2 linked regions of the Homo sapiens genome follow. The protein of the gene in region 1 interacts with the protein of each later gene in a pairwise test. Each region holds a gene or a part of one and is shown on either strand. Other genes may lie near its edges. The genes, in order: LAPTM5 and DISP1.

Evidence for each region.
Region 2: the proteins of LAPTM5 (region 1) and DISP1 interact in binary tests that used the Homo sapiens proteins (3 or more experiments, as listed by UniProt).

The regions. Positions count from the first base shown.
Region 1 is NC_000001.11:30,752,441-30,764,357, forward strand, and holds the start of LAPTM5 (lysosomal-associated transmembrane protein 5), read right to left. Parts: upstream 5,335-11,917; 5' UTR 5,306-5,334; coding exon 5,219-5,305; intron 1-5,218. UniProt on the Homo sapiens protein: May have a special functional role during embryogenesis and in adult hematopoietic cells.
Region 2 is NC_000001.11:222,982,052-222,993,753, reverse strand, and holds part of DISP1 (protein dispatched homolog 1), read right to left. Parts: intron 10,675-11,702; coding exon 10,645-10,674; intron 4,399-10,644; exon of another isoform or gene 4,230-4,398; intron 3,130-4,229; coding exon 3,006-3,129; intron 2,235-3,005; coding exon 2,107-2,234; intron 1,900-2,106; exon of another isoform or gene 1,804-1,899; coding exon of another isoform or gene 1,742-1,803; coding exon 1,644-1,741; intron 1-1,643. UniProt on the Homo sapiens protein: Functions in hedgehog (Hh) signaling. Regulates the release and extracellular accumulation of cholesterol-modified hedgehog proteins and is hence required for effective production of the Hh signal. Synergizes with SCUBE2 to cause an increase in SHH secretion.

The sequences.
Region 1 (11,917 bases):
GACAAACCTGCTAGGTCTCTGAAGCACTGCAGGGTCCTTCCCCTCCAAGCCTGTGTCATGCTACTCCCCCCGCCCAGCGTGACCTCTTTTCCAAGGTGCCCAAGCAAAGCCCTACTCATCCTTAAGACTCAGACCTCCTCCAAGAAGCTATTCCAGAATCCCAACCTCCAGCCCTACATCTGTGCCCCCATCATAGCCAGCAATGTCATCCATTGTCCTCGTCGGTTTTTCCTTGGCAGACTGGCCCCTCAAGGGCAGAGGCCGTGAATGAGTCAGGGCTGTATCCCGGCCTGGGGCTGGGCACATGGGTGAACTTACCTGCACGAGGTCAGGGCAATAGAGACTCCTTCTTCAAATACTATGATTTGAATGCTTTACCTTTTTTTTTTTTAAAGAGTCTCACTCTGTCAGGCTAGAGCGCAGTGGCGCGATCTCGGCTCACTGCAACCTCCACCTCCCAGGTTCAAGCAATTCTCCTGCCTCAGCCTCCCGCGTAGCTTGGACTACAGGCTCCCGCCATCATGCCCAGCTAATTTTTTGTATTTTTAGTAAAGACAGGGTTTTGTCCTGACCTCAAGTGATCCACCCGCCTCAACCTCCCAAAATGCTGGGATTACAGGCATGAGCCACCGCACCTGGCCGTACTTTTTTTTTTTTCCAATTTAAAAGTAGTATACTTGAGCCACAAAGTAAAGTACCATTGGATTATAACCCAAAGCATACAGTAAAGATCCCTGGGTCCCTGTAATATAAATAAATCATTTATTTATATAATAAACTGGGAGTACAGACAAATCTCCTTGAGAAATTCCAAGTAATTTATGTAGCTACTCTGCCCTCAAGGAGGTGGGGCGGAACTCCCCATTCATCAAACTTGAGTTGCTTGGAGCAGCATAGTGACTTCCTTCTAAAACATACAGCATGGAAAGGAGAAAAAAAGAGTAACTTTACAAAGGAGTAACCTCAGCCGGGGGCTCAAAGTCACCAGCAACAGTGGTAAGTCAAGTTGGCAGAACCTTTTCTTAGTACGATGTTCTGAGACTGGCACATCATCTCTGTGGTCTTCCTCCCAAAAGCACATTCCCAGACTAATCATGAGAAAACCACCAGAGACCCCAGTTGAAGAACATTTGACAAAATGCCTGACAAATACTCCTCGAACTGTCAAGATTATCAAAAACAAGAAAAATCTGAGAAACCATCATACCAAGAGGAACCTAAGGAAGTGTGAAGACTAAATGTAACGCGGCATCCTGGATGCAATCTTGGAACAGAAAAAGGATGTAAGAGGAAAGCTGGGGAAATAGGGGTGAAGCACTGACTTTAATAACAGCCCACGAATATTCATTCACCCATTGCAACAAACGCACCACACTAACGTTGAGACGTTAGCAATAGAGGAACTAGGCATGGGGGACGCAAGAACTATCTGTACTGTGTTTGCAATATTTTCGTAAATCTAAAACCGTTCTAAGTACGTGCTCATTGTACCAAATATGGAAAATACAGAAAAGTAGAAAAAATAGAGCTTTCACTATCCTAGAACCCAAATACATTTCCTCCTCGCCCAGTTTTGACGTATCCTGTTTTGACACTGTTGAAATCATAGCAGGTGTTAAGTTTTTTAACCCAGACAATGCATTTCTGACAGTGGAATTCCGGGCACTCTGGGGAAGAGGGGTCAGGAAGAAAGAGATTTCTGGGCAAAAGTGTCTTCTGGGGGTGTCCACTTTCTACCATCGACTTAGAACGTGCTTCAGGTTGACAAAAAGCCAGGACCCAAGAGACCCAATTTAAGAAATTTCTCTAGACTGGGCTCGGTGGCTCATGCCTGTAATCCCAGCGCGTTGGGAGGCCAAGGCAGGAGAATCACTTGAGGCCAAGGGTTTGAGACCAGCCTGGGCAACATAGTGGGACCCTGTCTCTACAAAAAAAAATATTTAAAATTAGCTGGCCATGGTGGCATGCGCCTGTGATCCTAGCTACTCAGGAAGCTGAGGTGGGAGGATCTCTTGAACCCAGGAGTTCAAGGCTGCAGTGAGCTGTGATGGCACCACTGCATTCCAGCCTGGGTGACAGAGCAAGACCCCATCTCTTAAAAACAAAAACAAAACAAAACAAATCAAACCACAAAAGATGGGCAAGTTACTGAACTTTGAAAAAAAGAATAGATTTTTTAAAAAAAGAAAGAAAGTTTGCTGGGTTCCCAAAGTGTGCAAGTTTGGGTGACCCAGAGAATCCTCTACACAAACCCACTGACATCCTGAGGAAGATGCCCGAGCCCAAAGCTACGGACCAGGCTTCCCTCATGTAATAACGCCCTCATGACTCAATAGAGCGTGGCACTGTCTCAGGATGGCAAGGTCTCAATTTAACCCTCCCTAGAGGGGCCAAGTCCACAAATAGCTCATGATGTGCAGAGTCGTCACCCATGGCTGGGTCCAGATGACAGCCAGCATGGGCTATTGACACATCTGGACCACAGCTTCTCTTTTTCCATCCAGATGCTCAAGGTCCTATCAGCACACCTGTTGCCAGCTAGCCTATGGGAAAGCCCCCAGGCCCTGCCCTTTCTGGGAAGGAGAGAGGACTCTTTCGGGGTGCAGGAAGATAACCCCCCACTGGAGTCAACTGAGGACCACAGCCTGGAGACAACCTGGGCCGAGCGCACAGCTTCCAGGACACCCCTCTGCTCTTTTGCTTGCTCCTGCTCTAGAACGTCTCATCACTCATAGGCATTGGTTCTCAACTGGGAGAGATTGGGCCCCATAACTAGAGACATTTTTGGTTATCACAAGTGGCAGGGTAGGGAGATGGGCAGTGCTGCTAGTATCTAGTAGGTAGAGACCATGGATGCTGCTGAACTTCCTCTAACGCACAATTCACTCCCCCAAGATGAAGAATTATCCAGCCCAAAATATCAATGGTGCACTGCAGAGAAGATCCAACTTCTTAGCTTGTCACTCAAAACCTTTATCACCTCCTCCCCAAACTCCAGGTTTGTCTCTATTGTGTCCCTGTAGAAGCCGAACACATACGCCATTGCTCACCTGTTTCTCCTCACCTTCCATACTGCCCACAACCAAACTCTCCCTCCTGCCAATGGCACCACCTCCAAGAAGTCTTCCATGATTGCTAGGGCCCACACATTCTTCAGCTCTGTGAGCAGGGACCGTATATCACACCACCATTTACAGGTGAGGACATCGGATGGCACGATCAACAAGAAACCTTAACAGCCCCACAGTCCCGGGTTTGCAGGGCAGCCTCTGGGCCCACACAACCTGCAAATGGATTTGACTTGGCCTGCACTGAGATTTTTTTCTACCATGCATCAATCACTAGCATTGAAACATCAGAAGATGTGACACAAAAGCCTGCTCCCTATTCTCTAAACATCAGAAGAGCGGCCACCAGGGCCCACAATCCTTCGTGGCAACAACAAGCAAAAACAGAGAACAGCTGCAGGGTGGGCCAAGCAAGGGCTCCCGGGGTCACCGCAGGCCCCATCTGCCCCCTGCTGTCACTCACATGGCCTGCCCAGACCCTAGAGGCATCAGAGTTGGAGACCTCTGAGCCAGTCAACATCACCTTACCCCTGACTTTATAAAAGGGAAACTGAGGCCCAGAGAGAGGCTTGTCTGAGCCCATACAGCCAGTTAGTGGCAGGGCTGGGGTGAGGACCCAGGGACTTGCTACCTGTGAGGCGCCCCTGCATGCCACACTGTCCTTCTAAGAATGTGCATAGTCTCAGAGCTTGAAGGCCTAAAATACAGGGTACAGGGACACTCAAAGAGTGATTTGCTTCTCTCAGCTCTTGCATTGGCAGGAGCTCGGAAGGACAACCTCTGAGTTCCTCCTCCCAAAACTAGAGTCCTTGAATCTGACAACTTGACTCCAAGGATGCTGACAGCAGGTGCCATGTCTGATGCACAACGAATAATAAAGCACTCACCTGTGCGTCAGGCGTGGTTCTGCATGCTTTGTATGTATCAACTCCCTGAGCCTCACAACAAACCCTATCAGATGGGTATGATAATTCACATCCCCATTTTTTTAAATGAGAAAACTGAGGCTCAGAGAGGTTAAGTAAATTGCCCAAGGCTGCAGAGCTGGGAAGCAGGGAAGCCAGGATTTGCATGCAGGAGTCTGCATCCAGAGGCCGTGGGCTAACCACTGAACAGCATCGCCCCCCTGAAGGCTGGGCTCTTGCCACAGCTCTGCCTGCCCTGCCTGTGACAGGAAGCAGACGCAGGCAGGTCTGAGTTTGCAGCAACCCACCGCAGCATGTGGATCTAGGCTAATTTTGAGGAAGCCCTTCCAGACTCATGAGAAAACTGTTAACCACAGGCCCTGAGTCACCCCAGGAGGAAGTCGCTTGGGTCTAGGGGAGATGAGTGTGGCCAGGAGTTTGGGAGTAGGGTGGGTCTAGGCAGGACAGTACAAGGACACTGACCCTCAGCCACCCCAGGCAGAGGGGCAGCCTTGGCCCCCGGGCACTGTGACTTGCCCAAGACCACACTGTGAGTCACCAGGAAAGGAGGAACCAGTGACAGCCGTGACTTCACAAGTTGCCCAACAAGAGCTTGGGCCGGACAAGTTACCCTAATGATTAGCACAGGTCTCAAGTTCTCTTTGGTGGGCAGAAGGCCGTGGTTTGACTGAGCTGGAAGCTGAGAGGACACGGCCCCTGCCTCCCCACTGGAGGCACAAAGGGGAGATCCCCACTTCTCATCCCCTCGAGTGGCCCAGGCTCCCTCCAGGCCCCAGGGGAAGAATCGGGGCTGTGTCTGCGGCCGACCTCACATCCCGGTCAAACAATCCCAGCCCACGTTCCTCCCAAGATCCCTGCCTTCCAAAGCACTTTCACATCTGCTGTTGGCTTTGCACACAAATAACCTTCCGGCTGCTGCTGTGCCCCATCTCACAGAGGCAGAAACGGAGCCAGCCTCGGAGTGAACGTCAGTTACATTTGCCTGGAAAGTGGATTCCAGCTCCCTTACTCCTCACTCTTGCGGCATCTCCCCAGGGTACCCCCAGCCATTTGACAGAGAAGGAAACTGAGGCCCAGAGCAGGACAGGGATTTGCCCAGGGTCCCCCAGAGAGGTGGAGAGCAGGAGTTCTTTCATTTGTGGGGCTCCGTAGATGACGGGTCACCGCAGACATTCACACTCACACAAGCACGCACGCACACACACCCGGGGCCCGCACACTCACCACATGGTAGATGGCCAGGGCGGTGGTTGCGATGCGGACATTGAAGCAGCAGCAGGTCTGGCGGACAGTGGACAAGCGGGGGTCCATGGTGCTGCCGTCCCCTCCTCTGAGACACTGAAGGGGAAAGAGCCTGGTGCCTGGAGCAGGGCAGAGAAGGGGAAGCTGCTGGCTGCCCTCCTCACTTCCTTCCTGCCCCTTAGACAGGCAGGGACAAGGTCGTCACAGCTGGGGCGGGGCAGCTGGGGAGGGGGAGTGGGGACAGGGCAGCAGCCTGCCTCAGAGCACCCCACTGCCCTCTGCCATTCCCAGGAGGGGGTTCCAGAGAGGACAGACCCTAACACGGTCATCATGCCCTTCTCTGCACCAGGGCCAGGGTTCCACCGTTTCACACAGCTTGCTTACTAGAAGAACACTACCAACTTTGGAAGCCAGGACTGTTACCAAGCCCATTTCCAGATGAGGAAACAGCTGTCCAGAGAGGTCAAGGCACTTGCCCCAAATCACACAGTAGTTAGCACTGGTGGCAGAATTCAAACCCAGATCTGTCTGGCTGCAAAAATAGCTATTGTCTAGGAGGCATTTCCTGCCTCTTCCAGGCATGCTCCTGGATTCACTCCTTTCATCCTCACCTCAATCCTTTGAGAGAGGTACTATTATGATCCCCATTTTACAGATGAAGAAACTGAGGCACAGAGAGGGGGAATGATTCGTGCAAGGTCACACAGCTAGTCAATGAAGGTGCAAGGATTTTAACTGAGGCTGACTGGTGCTAGAAGCCTCCCTGGAGCTGGTGTTCTCTCCCACTTCCTCACCCTGAGCCGCAGGGAGAAGCTTGTTCTTCCTAAGCTACGAAGAGGCGTGCAGGGCTCCAGACAAGGACGGAAGAATAACCAGGAAGCAAACCCATCAACTGTGCGCCAGGCCCTGGGCTAGGCTTCTCTTCTAGGTGGGTCAATAACTCTTCACAGCAATCTGTGAGACCCGAACCTCACTTTCAGGGCCTCAAGACCCAATCCCCATACTCACACAAAATCAGGGATTGCTTTTCCCCCTTGATCTTGCAAAAAGTTGGAATTAATAAGCCACAACTCTTAGGCAAGCTACCCTGGAATCTCTACTCCCTCCTCAGATGATAAATTATCCATATTGCAATAAAGAAAGGGAATAGGAAGTACATGCAACATTTCTGGAAGAAGCCCTGCTTCATTCCACAGCTGAGCCCCTTTGCAATGCCAAGCTTCTAGTGCAGAGCAGACAGGAACTGCCATGAAGCCCTGCCCTCCCAGGAGATCATGGAGTTAGGATTGGACACTGCTGCAGCCCATCATTTCTGCCCCAGGAGAGGTTATAGAAAGTCCCTAAGCTCCTCCCACTTGGCAGGAGTTGCTCTGTTAGACCCACAAAACTTGATTGGTGGACTTGATCAATCCATTCTCCATGTGCCAATGAGACCAAGGGGACTCTGCAAGCTTTGGGCTCCTGGGAGGCCTGGCCTATCCCTTCCCAACTTCATTTTCAAGGCTGTTCCTGTTCCTTCATAAGCCTTGCTGAGGCCTGACATCATAGAAAGGTGACACAGTGCAGTGGTTAAGAACTTTGGCTCCACAGGCCCATGGCCTGGGATCTTCTGGCTGGGTAGGCAGAAAACCAAGAGAAGTCCTCCTTTGTCTAAGAGTAGCAAGACCAGAGGAACTGGAGATCAGGAAACCAGGGGCCAGGAGGGCCCTGAGGCCATGCTGGGGAGTCTGCATTTGATTGTGCACAGAAGCCATTTGACGATTTCCTACCATAATAAATGATAGCCATTCATAACATTGTGATTTGGTGAAACCAGGACAGGTGCAAAGCCAACTCCCAAAGAGAGGGATGAAACACACTGACAGCATGTGGAATAATTGTACATGGTCTATGGGTAAACATTTCTCATTTTTTATGGTGATAAATTCATTTTAATGTGCATTATAAAAATATACATAACTAGTCCATGAATCCTGTGATTTTCCATTTATAGGAGTAATATAAAGTCTCATTTTAAAAGAAATGCATTTAAATAAAAAAGGCAGTAAGTCAATTTAAAGAACATATTAAGGAAGCCACAGCCTAGGAGGACGCAGATGTGGCAGACAGCCCTGGAGGTGGAGTAGGTGGCATCCGTTTGGGAATCCTGGGGCATGGGGAATCCCAGCTCCCCACTTAGTAGCTGTGTGGTGTCAGACAAGGCACTTGATCTCTCTGAGCTGTTGTTTTCACCTCTGCAAAACGGCGGGGCGGTTGGGGGGAACAGAAATTTGCCTGGCAGGGCTGCGGTGAAGGTGAAATGAGGTCACGTGAATGCATCTGTTTGTTTTCTCCCTTCCAGCCCGTCCCTGCTCCCCGATCTCACCCGTACTCAGGCTGCTAGGAGGAGGCAGAGCTGGGATTGAACCCCTGATCTGTCTGATTCTGAGTCCCCTCGGGCACTACCTCCCTCGCAGAAGCAGGAGTTCTGATGCAGTCATTTGTCTCTCACCGGGTCACCAGGCTCCAGCACACACTGGCCCCTTGGCAGGCACCTCAGTCACTCCCTGTGGAGTACAAGCCTGAATCACTTTATTGTCATTCCCAACAAACCCCCTGTGGAGAGGACGGCTATTATCCCAAAGGTCAGACCCTTTGGCCAAAGCCACTGTGATAGGCAGAATAGTGCCTCTCACCCCCCAAAAAAAATCCACCCTAATCTCTGGAACCTGTGCGTACATGGCCTTACATGGCAAAGAAACTTCACAGGCGCCATGAAATTCAGGATCTTGAGGTGGGTGGGGAGATTATCCTGCATTATCTGGATGGCCCTGAGGTCATCAAATGGGTCCCCATAAGTGAAGGAAGATCAGAGTCAGAGAGGGAGTGGAAGATGCCACACTCCTGGCTCTGCAGTTGGAGGAAGAACCATGAGCCAAGGAGTGCAGGCGGCATCCAGAAACTGGAAAAGGCAAGGAAATGGCTTCTCCTCTAGAGGCTCGAAAGGGAATCACTTTCATTTTAGCTCAGCGAGGCGCATTCCTGACTTCTGGCCTCCAGAACTGTAAGACAATAAATGTCTGTTGTAGTCACTGTGTTTCTGGTCTTTTATTATAGCGGCCGCAGGGAACAAATACAGCTGCTCAGTGGAAGCAACAGCTGAGCCTGGGGCCCCGTCGCTGGAGCCCAACACACTCCACCGAGACCACAGTCCCCATCTGCACAAGTGCAGCCCTTACTTCCTTGCTGTGTGACCCCAGCCAAGTCGTGAACTTCCCTGAGCCTCCGCTTCCTCCTGCGCCAAGCGGGGATAATGATAATGCCCATCTCGTTGTCTGTACATGCAGGTGGCAACACCACATAAGCTCACTATTTATATTCTGCTGTTTTCCGTTACGAATGATAAGTTTTGAGCTTCTTCAAGTTGCTTTTCATACCTTCTTTGTGGAGTGGTAGAACCCTTGAAAACTTCAGACCCTCTGAATTCATCAAGATAAGGACAAGGAAATGTTCCATGCCACCGCAGCCACGGCAGAGCAGATACAAATCTGCTTGTCAAACTGCCCTTGTCAATGTTATTTCTGACAAAGGAATCTTCTAAGACCCCCTGACTTCAGACATGGTTCCCAGATCCTAGAGAGTCATCTTTAATCCTGAAAAGGTCTGTAATTCTGGCTGGTTATCTGGCTTAATAATTTGCTGCCATGGTATATGAATATTTAAACAGACAGCTCTGTTTCCTCAAAGGCAGAATTAGTTGTAAGCTTTCTTTGTTAAGTCAGAAGAACATCACTGGAACTTCCCTCTTCACCCATAGGCCTGGAGGTAAAAATAAAACCCACGACTCTGCCAGCTTTTGTATTTAAACAAAGAGTTTGGGAGTCTTGTGTCCTTTCCATTAACCTAGATGAAGCACTTAGAAGGGGCTGGGTCACGGTAAGGACTGCACAGTGGGAAGCATTTTGATCACGATTGTCACTATGATTCTTCCTGTCCTTTAAACCCTTTCTCAGCTGAGCCTCCCCCAGCCCTAGCCAGCAGAGGAAGGCAGCAGAGAGGCACTGATCAGCTCCCGTAGACCCAAGGGGCCAGTGATCTGCTGCAAGACACACAGCTGGTCAGGAGCAGAGCCAGGACACAGGTCCTCCTTGGGGACAGCTTCGTGGGCGGCATGTGAGTGGTGGCAGCCAAGGTAGCTCCAGGGCTGTCTTCTCCCGAGGGGCTCCTGGGTGCCCCCTGCAGCTCACCCAGGCTGAAGGTCAGCTTCCTGCCAGACCACTGGCCTGTGATTCCCTTCTGGCTGCAAGCCCCACCTCACTTCTGCCTTTGAGGTTTGGGGCTGGAATGTGTAGGGCCAAAGCCAAAGGCCTGAAAAATGTGAGAAACGGCAGAGCATTCTCTCCTGTCTCCTGCCCCGAACCCAGCACGGTCACCAGGGGTCAGGGCCTACACGTGCAACCCACAGGGTCCCTCCCCTACTCCCCTGCCTGTGGAAGGGGCCCAGGCCTTGAAGTCAGCCTGGAGGGTCAGCCTGGCAAGGACAGCCCACAGGCCTGTGGCCTGGGGACAACCAGACCTTCCAATGACCAGCTGCTGAGTCCAGTGGGCAGGCAGGGGACCCCAACGGTCTGCCAGACACTCCAAGGAGGCCTCCCCTCAGCCAGGCAGTCCAGGGGTCCCTGGCTGCACCCAGGGGCACAATGACACCATATCCTAGTCTGCTGCTGCCACAGGCACTGCAGGCTGAAGGCTCCAGGGAGATGGGACCAGCAGGCAGAAGGAGCACTGGCTGCAAAGTCTGCATAGCCGAGCCAGCAGCCTCCTGCTGAATAACAGCTCTGGGCACACCCCAGGACGGAGCATTTTAGATCATGGGTGCAGCCGTACTATCCATGGGGAGCTGGAAAACCCGGCTCCCTCCTGGCCCTGGTCTCCAACCAGCCTCTGCCTCACTCTGAGCTGTAGAGTGGGGATTGTCATAGCGCATCCAGTGTGCTGCTGCAAGGACTAGGTAATTCCCTCCTAAGCACCAGCCTCTGCCAGAGCCCCCTCCTCCCTGCTGCTGACCTCATCCTCAGGAAAAACCTCAGAGATCCAGGCACCTTAAGAAGTTGGTGGCAAAATAGCACAACTGCCATCAACACCACAGTAGGAGTTACCTCATTAGGTCATTCCCCCAGCTAGGGGATTTTTATTTTAAAAAATGAAACAACAACCACTAGCAAACAACAAAAGTGATAGGCCCCACTGAGGACCAAATCTGGGGCCAGGCTTTAGATACCTAAAAAAGAAGAAGAAGAAGAAGAAGCAAGGTAGAGAACTACTACACATGGTGTGCGATTTAGTCACTTCTAGGAAAGCTGCAACTTTCTTGATTTGAAAGGGACAGACTTCATAAGCACATGTCTTCTACCCATTGTCCTAACTCCCTTCGACCTTCTGTAAATGCAGGTGCAATGCCTGGAGGCACAGAAGCCATTTGGGGACCATGAGAACAAAAACGATACCCTAATGCAGAGCGGAAAGAGAGGAAGAGCCGGGATCCCTGATGCCATCATGAAGCCTCTGCACCAGCCCTGAACCTCCTTTCTCTGTACATCTTGTAATGTGAGGGAAAAAAACCTCCCCAGGCCTTCTGACTTCATCCCTTCAACAAGAGCCTTGTTTTGTGTGCTCAGGACATAGCAGTGAACAAGGCAGACAAGGTCCCTGGTCTCATGGAGCAAACATTCTAGTAGAGGAGGCGGTGAACAAGGACACACATGAACAAGAGCATCTCAGCAAGTGACAGCTCTCCATCACTTCCTCCTGCTGCCTTCCTAGCCTGGTTTCTGGTCTTGACTGGAGCACAGAATTGCTGTGGGGCTTTGGAATGGCCACTTCCCCACTCCAACTTCTGTTTTCCTGTCTATAACATCAAAGAGGTGTCCAAATCCATGCTCTCTGAGGCCTGGCCCCTCTCAGCCAGGCCCCGGCACCAGGCAGGTTACTCCAAGCAGCTGCACCCAGAGGCTGGACCCCCTCCAAAGCGACTGGGCTGTTGCTGCCCTCAAATTCCTCGGCACTGGGTAAACAGCTAGGCAGCTCCCGTCAGCCAGCCAGGCCTCCTGACCACCCCTCTCAGGGACATCCATAAATTTTCAGCCAGCTGCAGGCTGAAGAGCCCAACTGTGACTCAGGCTCTTCCTGCCAGTGCCCGGCACAGAGCAGCCCGAAGGGCCAGGCCATGAGGGGGCCACCCCTGCTGTTCTAGGGCCACCATCCCTACTCTGGGGACCCCAGCTGTGGCTAGTCCCTGCCCAGATCAGCCACTGAGTCTTAGTACCCCTGTATGGCGTGCACACACACACACACACACACACACACACGCACACACCGCACCCATCGTGCACTCCATACATCTCAAACTGACCCCTCTGGGTGTTGGCCCCTCCAGCCTCCCCACTGCCCAGCCAGAGACCACAGCACAGCCTCCTCTCTCTCCTCACCCTCACTTCCACCTCCTCCCAATCGCCAAGCCCTGTGGATTCTGCTTCCCTCCCACCTCCCAAATCTGTCTGCCTTCCTCCACCCCTACTGCCCAGATCCAACCCCCTACGCCACCCCACACCTGAGACTTTGCTGTGGCAAAAGGCAGGGAGCAGAAAGAGAGGCCTGACCTGAACCAACCAGGCTCCAGGGGCTGCTGCCTGGGCCAGCCAC
Region 2 (11,702 bases), about 190 Mb from region 1:
AGATCATAACTAACAGATGTTGGTTAAGCAATAATATATACTAATACTTTGATTGAGAGAAATAAACCAGCCAGAACATGCAAGTAACCAGAGTTCAATTTCCTAATGTTTTTTAAGAGAAGAGACAGAAAAGGAAACATGTATTGCTTCCTGGGATCAGTATAAGGTTCTGCCTCATCTCCTACTATCTATTACTATACAGAGTAAGTGATCAAAATAAAGACCCTGAGACTTGGTAAACTCCAGAAACATCAAAGATCCAATCAGGTCATCTAGTGTTCTAATAAGACAGGAAAAAATACATTTAAGAGGGATTTTCAACACCAACAGCAAAAGCTGAAATCAAAAGAGCTTTAATGTTAATATTCACTTAATTAAAAATTATACTATCCACAATTCCTCAATCCTAATCACTATGGCTAATCAATGGCTTACATACTTATATTCATGTCCTCTAGGCTGTGCCTTCCTTCTTCTCTGGCAGCTGCAGAGTAATCAGGCTGACTCCATGTTACAGCAAATTTTGGGTAGTGAATTTGTTGCCAACATTTAGAGAATTAATGGCTCCACATTCAAATCTGGATTCTTGGCCAGGTGCGGTGGCTCATGCCTGTAATCCCAGCACTTTGGGAAGTCAAGGCGGTATGGTCACCTAAGTTCGGGAGTTCGAGAGCAGCCTAACCAACACGGATGGAGAAACCCCGTCTCTACTAAAAATACAAAATTAGCCAGGCATGGTGGTGCATGCCTGTAATCCCAGCTACTCGGGAAGGCTGAAGCAGGAGAATCGCTTGAACCTGGGAGATGGAGGTTGTGGTAAGACAAGATTGCGCCATTGTACTCCAGCCTGGGCAACAAGAGCGAAACTCTGTCTCAAAAAAAAAAAAAATTCTGGGTTTTTGACCTCTGGCAAGTTCTTGCAACATTTGGGCCCTCATTTCTAGAACCCCATCTTTTGTCGCGGCTAAGTAGCAGCCGATTTCTTTCGACAGGGCAGATGTTCCTTAGTGTTCCACAATCACCATCACTTCTCCTGTCACACCTAGCTAGCTTTATTCACTTGGATTATATGCCAGGCCCCTGAGGCATTCAAACTTTGAACCTCTAGACTTTATTTTTTTCACCTCTCTACCTCTACTGCCTAGTGATGAGGTAACACACAGAAGGCTCTTAATATAGTATTGCTTTTTGAATGAATCAGAACTTTAAGCCATTTTCTGATTCACTTTAGAATGAATTGGAACTTTAAATAATTTTTTAATAATTCAACAGATTATTTCAAGGTTCAATGCAAAAATATGTACCTGTACTTGATCTAGAAATAAATAGTACAAGGAATTTTTAAAAAGACTTGAAATGTTGGGCAAGGTCAAGAATTTCATTAGATTTATATCTTCCTTAAAATAAGAAAACTCAATCATTACTTTTTCATTAATTTTAATAATATAATAAACTCAGACTAGTAGTTGACTAAACTAGAGAAGTAAAAGAAAAAGTTAATTAGCCAAAATTTCTTTAGGTTCAACAGCAACAGTGAAGCTGTGTGACTAGCCACACACGGCTATCAGTCTAGACTGTGATCATGTTCAATTTTAAATGCGAGCAAACTGCTGAGTGGTTTGTTCATCTACAATGTCACTCACTTGGAACGTCGCAGAAAAAGCTGTCCTTGTGGAAGTTCCAGTCAACTTCTCTTTTCTCTCTTTCATAATGATCATCTGACCATCTATCATCCCGATGGCTGAAATGGAACGACAATTTGATCTTCAATAAAGTTCTCGTTATTTCAAAGCTGATAAGCATACTGGAAACATTACTTCCTCAAAGCCATGACCTGCTTAGTCCTTGATATTAAGTTGAAAGGATTAGAAGAAGCAACCAACATTAATTTTCTCACTTCTAAAAAAGAAAAAAAAAAAGAAAATCTCACCTTTTCATCCTACTACAACAAAATCTTCAAACACAATGACAAGTTAAGCAAATTCAGTGGCAAAGATTTTGAGCCACACATTTTACATTTAAATTTTTTGTTTAGGCAGTATTTGAAGAGGAATTCATTCAGCAATGTTTTGTCTAAAAGTTATATAAAAATAAATAATTGATTACCTTTTGGCTTGTTCATCTGCATATTTAAAGGGATAATTTGCTAATGTTGCTTTGTATCCTGTATTTTTCACCATATTATTCCATGTGACCAATCTCTGGCCTATTGCTGTTCCTCTTGGTTCAAAACCCTAAGGCAAAATTACAGGTGCTCATTAGTATATTTCATTTCAGGCTAAGTACAGTTACAATAAAAGCTTGGGAAAGCAATGTCAAAGTGATATATAGCTTTCAACAGAAAATATAGCTGTTCCTCACAGCTACTCCAGAGGTGACTGCATTAAAACAAGATGCCTTGACATGATAATCATCACCTATTTGCTGTGACAAAACAGTTTGATTCTTTGGTATGTTACATGTCTAAAGAAAGTTTATCTTTCCAACTCATGCCTAAGCATTTAGTAAATACTTACTTTTATCTTATAAAAATTATGATCAAATTAAATCATGTTACGCACTGTATTTTTACAAAGAGTGTTTCATTATCCTTGATCATATTTTCCTCATTATTCCACTCCAGAGAAACATTTACTTAAAAACAGACTCTGTGATCTGTTAGTAATACTGAAATTCCTTTAACTTCTTTGGGAGAAAACAGAGACAGTGTTAAAGACTTTATGAGAATAATTTTGTAGAAGGCAGATTCTCCAATTTATTGCTTTTTAGCTTAAACATGGGGACCAAGAAGCAAACCTTCCAGATTTTTGAGGGTAAACAAGTTCCTTGACCTTTTAAGAACCTGATAATACAGATAAAGTCATGTCTTTACTTTTCAGAAAGAGAATTGTTGCTTGAGAAGGTTTTTAAAGAAATGGGTTACTAAATAACATAATGCAACATGTATTAAAATACACAATATTTGGAGATGATTTTAGGCTAAAGAAAACATAAAAGTTAGTTACCAGCAATGGATCAGAGAAGTCAGGGAGCTCTGGCACTAATACTCCAACCAAGGCACAGACTACGATGAACATGGTGCACATGCCCAAGACCACCACCGGCCAGTCGGCTATCAGGGCTGCATAACTACAAAACACAAAGAAGTGTCGGCTATCAGAGCTGCATAACTACAGAAACACAAAGAAGGCACAAAGAAGGCCCTTCGCAGAAATATTTTTGGTACCTAAGACAGCAATTTATTAAATCCTCATATTGTAGACTACATACAGGTGTTTATCAATACAATATCTAATGGGATTATAAATATTTGTATGTAATTGTAGTAGAAAGTTACAAGATCATTGTCCCCTCATTTTTGTGATCAAGTAGCACTTTATGCCACAGGCTATTGAGAGTCAGAATAATGTTCATATATGACAAGTAACATTTTATATCTACATCTATGCCTGTAAAGAGATATAAAATACACACTTCATCAGTGGAAAGAAAATAAATTTTAACAGAGGATCCATACTCCAATCAGTGTCTTTCAGAACTTTTGTTTCTCTAGTTATTCCCTTTCTCCACACCTTTACTCTCAGAGTTCTTAAACAGTGAGAGTCTATAAACAGGTTCATACAGTTCAGATCTTAAAAATAACCAAACTAAGGGCTGAGCATGGTGGCTCACACCTGTAATCTCAGCACTTTGGGAGGCTGAGGCGGGTGGATCACAAGGTCAGGAGTTCGAGACCATCCTGACTAACACGGTGAAACCCTGTCTTTACTAAAAATACAAAAAATTAGTTGGGCATGGTGGCACACGCCTGTAGTCCTAGCTACTTGGGAGGCTGAGGCAGGAGAATCACTTGGACCCGGGAGGTGGAGGTTGCAGTGAGCTGAGATCATGCCACTGCACTCCAGCCTGGGCGACAGAGCTAGATTCTGTCTCAAAAAAAAAAAAAACTAAACTAAACACTTCCCATAAACCTGTAACTTTCCTTCTAGCTAAAACTACAGTGAGCATATCCACTAGATATGTGAGTTCCATGAGAGCAGAAATTCTTGTCAGTGGAAGTTGATCAATAACTATCTATTGACTAAATGAACAAACATCTGATGCTTGTACTCTCCAGCTACTACAATCTGGTTTTAGTCTCTTCCCACATGTGCAGAACTGTCTCTATTACCAAATCCTAACACTGGGCCCTTTCTTCCAGATGCGCTTCCCACACCCTCATTTGTTACCTCAAATTGAAAGATCTGTTTCTGTATCCCTTCCATGAGGTCCTGGATCACACGTTATTATTTTGGCACTTCCAAGTCTTGATATGAGCTGAGTACCCAACAGAAGCTGACTAAACTGAACGTTTTCTAAAATTCAAAATGCATCCTGCAAACTTCTGGCTTCTTGAATCTTTATTAGAAGAAAAGCAAGACAAAATATTTAACTTGTGGACCACTACTCTCAAATTCTCAGTAATGTTAGCTCATTTGGCTGCTGCAATGGCTATTTCTGGCTCATTTGAAATAGGATTCTTACTCATATATTTTTGAGTTATTTCTTCAAAATCATGCTAGTAGTTACAAATAATTCTGGTGGCTCTAAATGTCAGTCTGAAAAAAAGCTACTATATGTCTCTAATAATAGACTGCCAATTTTTATAATCTGATGTCTTAACTTTATTGATCTGGCTTTGTGGAGATATTTGCTTCAAATTATAATTCTAGTAAGGATATTAAAATATAGAGCAATTATGCTTTAAGGGAGCATGTGCACAGGCACTTTTCACTGCTGCTCTTTTAAAGTAATCTTAAAAGGCCAGACACAGTGGCTCACGCCTGTAATCCCAACACTTTGGGACGCTGAGGCAGTCAGATCACCTGAGGTCAGGAGTTTGAGACCAGCCTGGCCAACATGGTGAAACTCTGTCTCTACAAAAATGCAAAAATTAACTGGGCATGGTGGCACACGCCTGTAGTCCCAGCTACTTGGGAGGCTGAGGCAGGAGAATTACTTGAACCCAGGAGGCGGAGGTTGCAGTGAGCAGAGATCATATCACTGCACTCCAGCCTGGGTGAGCAACACTCTGTCAAAAAAAAAAAAAAAGAGAAAGAAATAAAGCTATAAAGGAAGGAAGGAAGAAAAAAGAAAGAAAGAGAAGAGAGAGAAAGGAAGAAAAAAGAAAGAGAGAGAGAAAGAGAAATCTTATAAAAATAAATAAATAAATACAAGCTCGTCCTTATTCAGAATACCAGTTGCTCTTGTGCTTTACATAAATTATTATATTGTTCAATTCTCACAACAACCCTTGGAGATGAAACTGCAGCATTGACAAGTTATAGAACTTATTCAATGTCACAAAACTAGGAACCTAGATAGTCTGGTTCTAGTGTCAGGGCTTTTAATCTCTGGGCTGTCATTTCTTTCTTCAGACACAAGAGTAACTAGAAACATTAGGAATAACTACACTTGCCACAAATGTCTGTTTCCCAAAACTTACAATTAAAAATTCCTAGCCCTATTTATAGTTAATTTCTCTATGCAAAATCATATGGGTTCTAAGTTTGAACATTATTCACTAGACTGCAAATTTTAGATTTAAAAACTCATTCAGGAAAAATGACAGAATAACCTTTTAGAATAATTCTGAAAATAATAAAAACATTTAAGTGACAATAAGCTGATTGTGGTTGTTCAAATGTAAACACCAAGTGTCTAGAAGCTTTCACACTTCTAGGACACACCCTGTGCAAAAATATTCTCCTTACTTTATTTCCTCCTCCACAAAATGCAAACTAAGATGAAAGTAACTAGTTTTGAAGCAATAAAGTCCTCTGTCTCAATAGCACATTTGAGACTACTTTCATTGCTTCAGACTTAAAAAGAGTCCTTTACATTTTAGACCATTAAAATATCAGCCCTGTGAAATGAAAATGGCCCCAGGCTTATACAATTATTCATTACACTTTATTTTAAATGGATTCATTTTCTCTCAAATGAATCAGAAGTTATGCATTTTTACCTATTAACATGTTATCAATAGAGGGCAGTAGGCCCCAAATTGCTTAGTATTCATACTGTGGTTTAATTAACCCATATAATAACTTTTAATTTTGTGTTCTTGAAAATCTGCACACACGTATAGCAACGTTAAAAGCCCCATTCAATAATTGCTTTTCTTCCCTTTGAAAACATTTGGTTTTGATTTTACAGCACTGCTACACACCATATACGTGCACTGACTACATATGGAAACTTTATGGCATTAGTGATTTCAGCACATTTCTTCCAAACACGTTTAACCTCACTATATTACAATTCCACTTCCTTACACAGCCGATGTTTCCCACGCTAACCTTTCCTAGAGATAACTGTTCACATTTAAGTAATGGGATCACCATCCTGAGTATATAAAACACCATGGGGGAAAGCCCAATCATTCTAAGTAAATTTTACTCAAACAAGTATTTCTTCTCAACACCACAAAATTGCTGAGGCTAATTCTACTCCTCCTGCTATCTATGCAAATATATAGTATAGCTGTGGGTACCACATGGGAAACAGAGTTGCCTGCGCAATATGAAATCCAGACAATGGTTGTAATATGAAGATAAAAGTCTAATAAAGTAGGAAAATTGGAGAAGTAAAGGAAATTAAAAATAGTCTATAAATCTCACAAATATATATATATATTTGATGATGCTATATATATATATATATATCCATATCCTGTGCATTATTCTCTTTGAAAAGTGAACCACATGTAGAGTAGAAGAATTTTCAAAGGAACCATTCTTTTAACTATCATGTATTCTTCTGCATATCAAATCATATTTGTCTTTCATCCACCTTCTCTAATATTGAAAATCTTTAGACACCACAATATAACTGTAAATGTGGCCCACCTCTGTAACACCTGGCTTACAGCAGGTAGTCATTTTCCAGTGAAAGACCCTTTTCCCGGAGGCCCTACTGCTGTACTAGCTGCTGAGGTTAGGGACCACAACTCTTTACAGGGCACTGCTGTATAAAAGTTCACATCATCTTCTCAATAGGTTAAGTCTCTAATAGGAGACGGATCTGAAGGGCTCATTCTCCTTTTACAGAAGAAGGAACAGAAGTAGCAGAGGTAATGAAATGCGTTCGTGGATGAACCATGGATCTGAGTTAGCAGGCATGCTGCCTGGCGTTCTGGTCCAGGGTGTTACTGCCATGCTGGAGTTTTCACTGGTACTCAGTGGAAGTCCCTCAAACATAGTCAGAGATTTTCAGTCACCTTATTATTGGGTTTACTCTGGAAACAGATCAGAAATAACTGTTAAAACAAATAAACGAAGTATCTTATAGAGCCAGCTTATGCTCAAGTGACATTAAAATGGGGGCCAATTTTAAGTGGGTCATTTATATTACAATAACATTCCCCCATAATAAATTTTCCTCTTAGCTTACAAAGATTTTTTTTCCCTTGCTCTTTGCTGCCTTTCTCAAAACACTCTTCTTTTTTCTCTTCCCTCTGAGCAGAAAGCCGTGTTTCAGATGGTATAATTCAGTGCCCACACCAGAGGCTTCCTTTTCCTCACCGACCACCGGATCTTTAACCCCTTATAGCCTGGCTTTTGCTCTCATGACTTTTCTGAACTGCCCAAGTCAACTAACTATTCTTGGTTTTTACCTTCCTTGACCTGAGCAGAATTTAACACTGTTAGCTACCTCTTTCTTCCTAAAAATCCTTTCCCCGTTGGTGTATTCTTTTCTGTTTCTCTTAATAACTCTTTCTTATTCCTCTTGTCCCTTAAAGATAAGACATTTCAAAATGTTAAGTCATAACTTTTCCAGTGGCATCAACTATCAACTTAGTGAGAAGAGTGATTGAAGTTTGAGAAAATTAAAAAAAAAGAAAAGAATATACAACTCTTTTTCTTGTGAAGTAACAAATTCATCCAACAATTAGCATTAAACAATAAGGAAGCAAGGCATTCTGGGAATACAAAAATGGCAGACTTGGATCTTGCCCTCAGGGAATTTACAGCCTAATACAGAAAATAAGACAGGCACACAAATATCTACAAGACAGGTTAAAAAAAGTGTGTGCTTTTTGTTTTTTTCTTTCCCCCACCCCGAGACGGAGTCTTGCTCTGTCACCCAGGCTAGAGTGCAGTGGCACGATCTTGGCTCACTGCAACCTCCACCTCCCGGGTTCAAGCAATTCTCCCGCCTCAGCCTCCTGAGTAGCTGGGATTCCAGGCACCCGCCACCATGCCCAGCTAATTTTTGTATTTTTAGTAGAGACAGGGTTTCACCATGTTGGCCAGGCTGGTCTCGAACTCCTGACCTCGTGATCTGCCCGCCTCGGCCTCCCACAGTGCTGGGATTATAGGCGTGAGCCACTGTGCCCGGCCAAAAATATGTGTTTTTTAGAGGGGTACAGATGAAATGTTTTGTGAATTCAATAAGGGAAGCAATAAGTTCCAGCCAAGGTGGGAAAGGGGAATCAGGAAAGGCTTTGTTGAAGAAGTTATATTTATATGCACATGTACGTAAAAGAAATTAGAACTCTGTTTTAATAACACCAATTTAATAACAGAGAAAGAAATCTTTTCAAAGTAAAATTTTTAGTCATTTGCAAAAGCCCTATTTATAGAAAAGTAGAAATTTGTTTTCTTAATATGCCGTATTTACTTCCATACCTCTTTCCCTCATTTTTTCTTTCTCTCTTGTTTTTTTGCAAAAATGAAAAGGGAATTGGATAAACAAAATGTAGTATATACATACAATGGAATATTATTCAGCCTTACAAAAAGGAGATTCTAATACATGCTACATGAATGAACCTGGAAGAAATTACACTAAGTGAAATAAGCCAGTTCCAAAGGGACAAATACTGTAGGATTCGACTCATACGAGGTACTTACAGCAGTCAAACCCATAGAGACAGAAAGCAGAATGATGGTTGCTAGGGCCTGGGGGTAGGAGAAAATGGGGAGTTAATGTATAATGGGTACAGAATTTCAGTTTTACAACAGAAAAAAAGTTTTGGAAATGGATGGTGGTGATGGTTAGACAACAATGTGAATGTACATAATGCCAATGAACTGTACTCTTAAAAATAGTTAAAAGGCAACATATATGTTATATATACAACAAATATAAACATGTTATATATACAACATATATAACATATAAACATGTTATAACATTTAAAGTATGTCAACATGTTATATCTATCATATAAACCTGTTATATATAACATATAAACCTATGTTATATATAACATATAAACCTATGTTATATATAACATATATGAGTACGCTCTCTCTCTCTCTCTCTCTCTCTATATATATATATATTTTTTTTTTTTTTTTTTTGAGACAGAGTCTGGCTCTGCCACCCAGGCTTGAGTGTAGTGGTGTATTTCAGCTAAGCACAAACTGCTTCCTAAGCTCAAGAGGTCCTCCGACCACAGCCTTCCAAGTAGCTGGGACTACAGGTACAAACCACAATGCTTGGCTAACTTTTTGTATTTTTTTGTAGACACAGGTGTCCCCATGTTGCCTTGGCTGGTCTTAAACTCCTGACCTCAAGTGATCCGCCTGCCTCATCCTCCCAAAGTGCTGGGATTATAGGCGTGAGCCACTGCGCCTGGCCTATTATGTATATTTTACCACAATTTTAAAAATATATTTTTTTTTAAATAGAAGGAGAGTTTACTAATTAATATTTATGTAGTAATTTCACTTCAAAGACAGGATAACTCCCTTGAGGCAGGCTTCAGTGTTATCAGCATTTGAGCTTCTTTGGCAACTGAATTTCAAAGATCACTTAGAATTTCTTAAGTGTAATGACATTGTATCTGGAATTACAATGTGTAAGGACATCTGATGAGAAAACGCTTTTTTTAGGAACTCTTATCAAGTTAAAATTTTCTCTATTGAAAGATAAGCCTTAGACATTTCCACATAAAAGAATACTTCCATTGGTAACAAGATTTTTAAAAAGAAAGACAACCCCTCTGAAATAAACTGCCATGAATTCGAGTCATGGTAGTTGGCAGAACAGTATCTCTTTCCTCACTAAGTAAGCCAATCCGTTGCAGGAAGGAATGCAAAATAAATAAACAAATATAAATGTTTACGCACAAATATTTTTTTTTTTGAGATGGAGTCTTGCTCTGTCCCCCAGGCTGGAGTACAGTGGCACAATCCTGGCTCACTGCAACTGCCACCTCCCAGGTTCAAGCGATTCTCCTGCCTCAGCCTCCCGAGTAGCTGGAACTAAAGGCACGTGCCTCCACGCCTGGCTAATTTTTGTATTTTTGGTAGAGATGGGGTTTTGCCATGTTGGCCAGGCTGGTCCCGAACTCCCGACCTCAGGTGATCCACCCACTTGGCTTCCCAAAGTGCTGGGATTACAAGCATGAGCCACTGCACCTAGCCCTAGACACAAATAGAATTTAATAGGGTTAGAAATCTACCTTAAGATTAAAACCACTTTTGGAGATATGGAATTCCTCAAGCAGCCAACTCATGGGACATTTCTTTTTCTTTCATAAAAATATGAATGAGGAAAGTGAAAAGAACAGCAAAATACGGAGAAAATACTAGACTGGAAAAAGCATGCAGGTAAGTTTATTATTTAATAAGATGACCCAGATTACTTTACCTTTTTGGCAACTTGAAAGGTCTGGATGGTCTGAAAAAAAAAAAAGCAAAGGAAAAATGATCAAAAACAGAGCATCATAAACATCATAACATAAACAAAGGCTTTACATATGTGTTGAACATTTTACTTGTTATCTCTTACAAAGAATCTTGGAAGTGTTAAAAAAAAAAAGGCAATCTATTTGAGAGATTTTAAACAATGAATGTTGGCTACTTTACATACTAGTAGAGACAGCTCGAGTGGCTAGTCAGGAGGCAGAACCTTCCCAGACTCCGTATCACCCTCTCCTGATGGAATCATACTCACACTGTACAACATTCTTCTCTGAGATCTACAGCTACCAGATTCAGTCTTCTCTCCCCTAACAGGAATCCACATCCCTCAGTCTCCAATCTAAGCTGCTTCCTTACGTAGCAAAGATCCCAACACTTAAAAAAATTGGATATTAATACCTTCTTTTAGGTATTCTATTCCCTCTTCAAGATACCAGCTGCTTCTCCATTTTTCAGTTTCTTAATATCTAACTTCACAATCTACTTCAACAGATACGGGCTTGTATTTCCAATCAGCTCTTTCCCATACTGTTTTATTATTCCCACTCATCCTTTGTACCTTGCCTCCCAGATATAGGATAAGTTTGCTAAAGAAACTCCAAACTAAGTCTCAATCTCCAAACTTTGTATTCCTATCAGATTATTTTTTTCCTATTTACTGGAAAGCATTTAATAAATATTTGTTGAACAAACAAAAGTACACTGGTTATCACAGTGTGGTCTAAAGACAGCTGGGAGTTCCTGAGACCCTTTCATGGGGTTTGTGAGACCTCCCTTTTCCAACTACAGATGTGTGTAAAGCCAGATTTTCTTCATATACTTCATATATTTCAACCAAATGGCATATTGCCATAGATTGCAGAACAAATATGAGAATACGGCTTTTAGTAAGCCACATGTCAAAGAGATTTGCAAAAATGTAAAACAATGATACTTATCTTGCTAAACTTTTTTGTTTTGAAAAATGTAATTATTATTCACAAAATGTGTTATTTATGTTAACAT